2 separate regions of the Homo sapiens genome follow, and region 1 is linked to region 2. Evidence: fine-mapped expression QTL. A gene starts in region 2. The other region holds a variant in brackets. All regions are shown on one strand. Distances are from middle to middle. Region 1 has its middle 59 kb from the start of SKAP2. Region 2 holds the start of HOTAIRM1 (HOXA transcript antisense RNA, myeloid-specific 1).

Region 1 (3,020 bases), 170 kb after region 2:
AGGTGTCTAACAGCTCATATTTGTCATTTGAAGAGGTAAGGCAGCTATGAATGGGCTTAGGTTAATGTCAGTATCCAAGGGGTTTAATCTGGTGTTTAGGACACAGTAGCAGAAACCTCTAGTGAGGAATGGTTATCAGAGTCATTCATTCATTCAACAGATATTTACCAATCACTTGCTGTGAACCAATGAGAATCTATTTTATGTGCTAGGGATAGTGCAGTAAAATAACAGCACATTCTCTGGCTTCATATTACTTACATTTTAGTAGAAGATCAATCCAGTTTAGAACAGAAATCTAGTCTGTGGGCCTAAGTGATCAGCAAAGGCTTGGCAGTGAATCAGGCCCAAGATTCGAATAGAACTCTTCTTCCAGTAAGAGATTCCAATATCACCTTAGAAAATCCTAGCAGAGGTCTGATCAGAGTGGGAAAAATACCTACACTAGGATGAAGGACCAGAGGGCCATAGGCAGGCTTGTGAATTTTTACTTTGCTATAGACAGCAAGACTAACTCCACACCCCTCTTGGTGCTGGTCATGATTAGTTTAGGAGAGGAGTGGGGTTGAACAGATAGTAGGAGGCCATTTGTGCCTGCAGCAGATCTAGACTTAGGGGAGAAGGAAAATGACATCTCTCCTCTAAAATGCGGATTCCTTCCCTCAGAGTCTCTACAGTAATCTTTTATGGGAGTGATATGACAGGTAAGTGGTAGAGTTGTGAGCCTTCAGGGAGAGAACTAACTTAAAAGCACTCTGAAATATTGCCAAACGGCATTCATATGTAAGGCATTAGAATAATAATGATAATTATTGCTTGTAGTAACTGATGTCTGAGAGGGCATCAACCTGGTATGGTAGCAGGTGACACAGAAGGAGAAGAGACCATGAACATACAATGAGCTCATTTCTCTTCTGCTCAAGGAACCCAAGTAATTACAAAACTTCAGCATATGTTTTGCATTACACATGTGGCTCTGTCAAAAATGATGGAGTGGTGTCACTTTATGTCTCTTTGAACTAAATGAGAGAGAGAGATGAGAAGTAAGTAGGCAAGAGACTGTATTTGATTTTATCTTTCTGCTTAAACTGTGTTTTCAATTTATAAACCAATTGGATACAAAATACTTATTACAGAACATGACTCTTTCCTTTTATATTAGAGGAGTTATCAACAGAGTGGTTTCTTGTGCTTATTAGAATCTTTGTTCAAATAAAGCCAAGTAAGAAAAATGGGTTGGGCCTCATCTGTCAGAGGGCAGAGGTAAGAAATAAGTAGACAAAGCACAGTATCAGAATGCATTTGACTGCAAGAAATAGAAAAGTCATCTGTACAGGCCTAAACAAATGAGCTTTGTATTTCTAACATAACAAGAAGTCTGGAGGTAGGCAGTTGCCTGAGTCAGTTCAGTAATCCAATGATTTCAGGGCCAGCTTCTTC[A/G]TCATTTTCCTGGCCAGAATATAGCTACCATGGCTCCAGTCACCATGTCCATGTTCAGGACAAGAAGGAAGACTGGTAGAGACATTCTACTTGTGGAGTCTTGTCTTTTTATTAGCAAGAGAGCCTTCCCTAGTGGACTTTCCCTTTGTCTCCTTGGCCAGGATTCAGTCATGTGCCCACTTATTGGCCAATCCCTGAGGAAAGAAAAGAAAATTACTATGACTGATTTAGACCAATTTCAGCTCATTCCTTGTTGTTGAGGTAGGGGTCTACCCTTCCTGAAATCAAGGGATCTCTTTCAAAAACCTGAATACAAATTGGAGTTTTGTTACCAGGGAAGAAGAGAGAAACATTTCTTGTTTAGACTAGGCACAGTGTCTGCCTTATGTGCCAGTGGATCAAAAAGTGGCTGCACACCCAATTCAGGGTGGGGAGACTCCTGAAAACTTAGTACAAAAAGATTCACAGAACTCTGCACATTAAACTAGAAAGTTGTCCCTGGCTAATCTTGTACTCCAGTATCTCCATTGCAGAGTCTTATGTGGTTCTTTCTTTCTCACTGCAAACTAAAGATGAAGGATTCTTTTGGGAGGCTGAAGTGGGCAGATCACTTGAGGCCAGGAGTTCGAGACCAGCCTGACCAACATGGTGAAACTCCGTCACTACTAAAAATATAAAAATTAGCCGGGCATGGTGGCAGGTGCCTGTAATCCCAGCTGAGGCAGAAGAATCACTGTAATCCCAGCTGAGGCAGAAGAATCACTTGAACCCGGGGGGTAGAGTTTGCAGTGAGCTGGGATCATGCCACTGCACTCCAGCCTGGGTGACAGAGCAAGACTCCGTCTCAAAAAAAAAAAAAAAAAAAAGGATTCTTCAGCCAGTGCATAGCCCACTGCAATGGGTGGTCTCCTGCCCTTTTTCTTTTTCTTAAAATTTGTATTATTTTAATTATTTTTATGTACAGAAATCTCAACAGTGTGCATTTAACCCAGTTTGGTGGCAAGTTCTTTAGCCTTTGCCTTTTCAAGCTTGGCAATGCGAGCCACAGATTTGGGACCCAGGACATTGCCTCCCCAGTGACGGCAGATCTCATCGTATCTGTTGTTGTAGTTGGTCCTGATAGCTTCCACTAGCTTAGCCAAAGCTTCTTTGTCTTCCAAGTTCACCTGTGTGAAGGTGACAGTGATCCAGGTCTTCCTGTGGACTATATGTCCCAGTCTTGCCTTCCTCTTGATAATGCAGGGGAAGAGACCCCCATTTTATGACACAAGGCAGGTAGGAAGACAAGCTTGATGGGATCCACATCATGTACAGTCACCACCAGCTGAGCCTTCTTGTTCTCCACCAAGGTGGTGACGGTGTTAACTCCTGCTTGAAGGACAAGTGGTCTCCTAGTGGAGATGTCCCCTTTGCTGCAAGCTTTCTTCTCAGCCCGGACCAACAGCCTCTGCTTCTTCTCTTGCTTTGTCTTTCTCTTGTTTGGTCTGTAGTTGTGGGCCAGCTGAAGCAACTGAGTAGCTGTTTGGTGGTGCAGGGCCTGGGTGAACTGGTTAATTTCAGGATGCACTTTCAGCCACTTA
Region 2 (2,500 bases):
ACTCTAGACGTGCAGCAGAATGAGGAAGGTTATAAAAGGAAGCTCTCTCTCTCTTCTAACATTCCCCTCCAGAAAAAGAGGAACGCAACGAAGGGAGTTCAGCTACTATGTTGGAGCTGTGGACCGGCCCTGTGAGGCCCACGCGGGAGCGCGGAGGCTCCTGGGTCTCAGGGCGCCGGCAGATGGCCTGCAGCGCACCGCCCGGCCCCCGCGCTGGCCACGTCCGCCAGCGTCATCTCTCTCCCCCGCCTCCTACCCCTAAAAATCCGGCGGTCGAGTAGCTCCGCATCCCGGAGGGCTCCCGGTGCAAAACTGAGTGGGAAAGAGAAAGGGGCGGAGAGCGACGAGAGAGGGAAGGTGGGGAAGAAGAGCCCGGCCGCCCCCGGCCTTTTCCGGCGAGCTCTGAGTTTCCAGGGCTCATCCGCCCCTCCAAGTCGAATTACAGAAACTCCTCATTGCCATGCTAATGACGAGAGGGGCTGTGGGGAGAGGGTTTCGAAGACCCTCCTGGAAGAAGGGAAGTTTCTTTTCTTGCCCTCGTCTCCTTCACGCCCACCCGAGTTCCTCCCAGCCAGCCCTCTGCGCTCTTCCCCCTCCATTCCGAGCTTGAAGAGCCGGTGGCCCAGCCTCGCCCTCCACCACGGTTCTATGCGCTCCTCACAGCCCCACGGTCTCCCAGCCCAGCCTCAGAACAGAGGAGGTGGCCTGGGAACCCGGGGCGCGGTGTCAGCCGGATTCCCCGCCTTCCGGCTGGGCGCGCTGCGGGCTGGGCCGGCGTACTTGCGGCCACCCGGCGAGCTCTGGCCCACTGATTCCCGCCCCGAGAGAGCCGGGAGCCCTCTTCCCTTCTCACCTCTCGCCAGTTCATCTTTCATTGAACGGTGGGGAGGGGGCGGGAGCGGGGGACGCCTCCCAGCCCCCACCTCCCGGAGGCCTGGCGGGGCGGGCAGCGGAGTCGGGCGCGCGCAGAACGCAGCTTTTGCTCTTCTTCGCTCCAGCACTCCAAATCGGCCTTTGCAGTCGCCGCAGCAGCTGCCGCCGCCTAGGCTGCCTGGGGGGGCGACTGCGCGTCACCTAGACGGCGGAGCGCCGGGGATTTAAATGCCACTAAAACGGTGATCCATCACTGCGGAAGCCGGCAAACTTTTGCAGGAGGCTCAGCCATTGGCTGACACCGTCACGTGCCCCTCCTCCAGCGTCCTCCGCCCTCCCGCCCCCCCTCTTGCGCACTGTACATTCATATCATTTTTCTTCTCCGGCCCCATGGAGGAAGTGAGAAAGTTGGCACAGTCACGCCGGGCTTCGCAGGACCAGGTCACTCAGTGACAGATGGACAATGCAAGAATGAACTCCTTCCTGGAATACCCCATACTTAGCAGTGGCGACTCGGGGACCTGCTCAGCCCGAGCCTACCCCTCGGACCATAGGATTACAACTTTCCAGTCGTGCGCGGTCAGCGCCAACAGTTGCGGCGGCGACGACCGCTTCCTAGTGGGCAGGGGGGTGCAGATCGGTTCGCCCCACCACCACCACCACCACCACCATCGCCACCCCCAGCCGGCTACCTACCAGACTTCCGGGAACCTGGGGGTGTCCTACTCCCACTCAAGTTGTGGTCCAAGCTATGGCTCACAGAACTTCAGTGCGCCTTACAGCCCCTACGCGTTAAATCAGGAAGCAGACGTAAGTGGTGGGTACCCCCAGTGCGCTCCCGCTGTTTACTCTGGAAATCTCTCATCTCCCATGGTCCAGCATCACCACCACCACCAGGGTTATGCTGGGGGCGCGGTGGGCTCGCCTCAATACATTCACCACTCATATGGACAGGAGCACCAGAGCCTGGCCCTGGCTACGTATAATAACTCCTTGTCCCCTCTCCACGCCAGCCACCAAGAAGCCTGTCGCTCCCCCGCATCGGAGACATCTTCTCCAGCGCAGACTTTTGACTGGATGAAAGTCAAAAGAAACCCTCCCAAAACAGGTCAGTCCTGCTGGTTGGTGGATGCTCCTTGATTATTCTGGAAGGAGCTGGTATGCTTAATTTCCAAGGAAATTAATAATGATCTTTTTTTTAAAAGGCTTTTGTATCAGACTAGTGTTGTAGTGCATGGAGAGGGTGCCCAGAGGTGTTGGGGCAAAGAAGTCTCAGGGATTGGTGTGTTTTCAAGGATTTTATACATTTGGGAAATAGGAAGTATGTGGGGGTGGTTATTGTGACGGTAGTGTTCTGTTAATATCTTGAGGCTCCATTAATCACCGGTCTGACCATGCTAATGGTTTACATCAGGTTAACACTTTACACCTCATCACTCACCCTCCACAGCCCGATTTGTGCTGAGTTCTTGATCTTTTCTTTACCTGAGTGTTGCCATGAAGCGTGTGGGGAATCTCAAGTCGATTTAAAAATTTTTACATTTCCGTCTCATGGCTTCCCACTTTGCCCCAGGGAAAGTTGGAGAGTACGGCTACCTGGGTCAACCCAACGCGGTGCGCACCAACT

The links. PIP is the estimated chance that this variant, and not a neighbour inherited with it, causes the effect.
Region 1: its variant is fine-mapped to the expression of HOTAIRM1 in whole blood (INTERVAL, PIP above 0.99).

Annotation. Positions count from the first base shown.
Region 1 is chr7:26,922,316-26,925,335 of GRCh38, reverse strand. It overlaps the pseudogene RPL7AP38. Among named protein-coding and RNA genes, the nearest start is that of SKAP2, 59 kb to the right of the region's middle. The variant A/G (reference allele first, on the strand shown) is at 1,441.
Region 2 is chr7:27,094,742-27,097,241 of GRCh38, reverse strand. It overlaps HOTAIRM1 (HOXA transcript antisense RNA, myeloid-specific 1), which reads right to left and starts at 1,148. Exons shown (of 2, transcript NR_038367.1): 1 at 854-1,148. It overlaps HOXA1 (homeobox A1), which reads left to right and starts at 1,242. Exons shown (of 2, transcript NM_005522.5): 1 at 1,242-1,981; 2 at 2,447-2,500. The coding sequence starts at 1,330. RefSeq lists enhancers at 280-852, 978-1,272, 2,154-2,500 and a silencer at 756-925.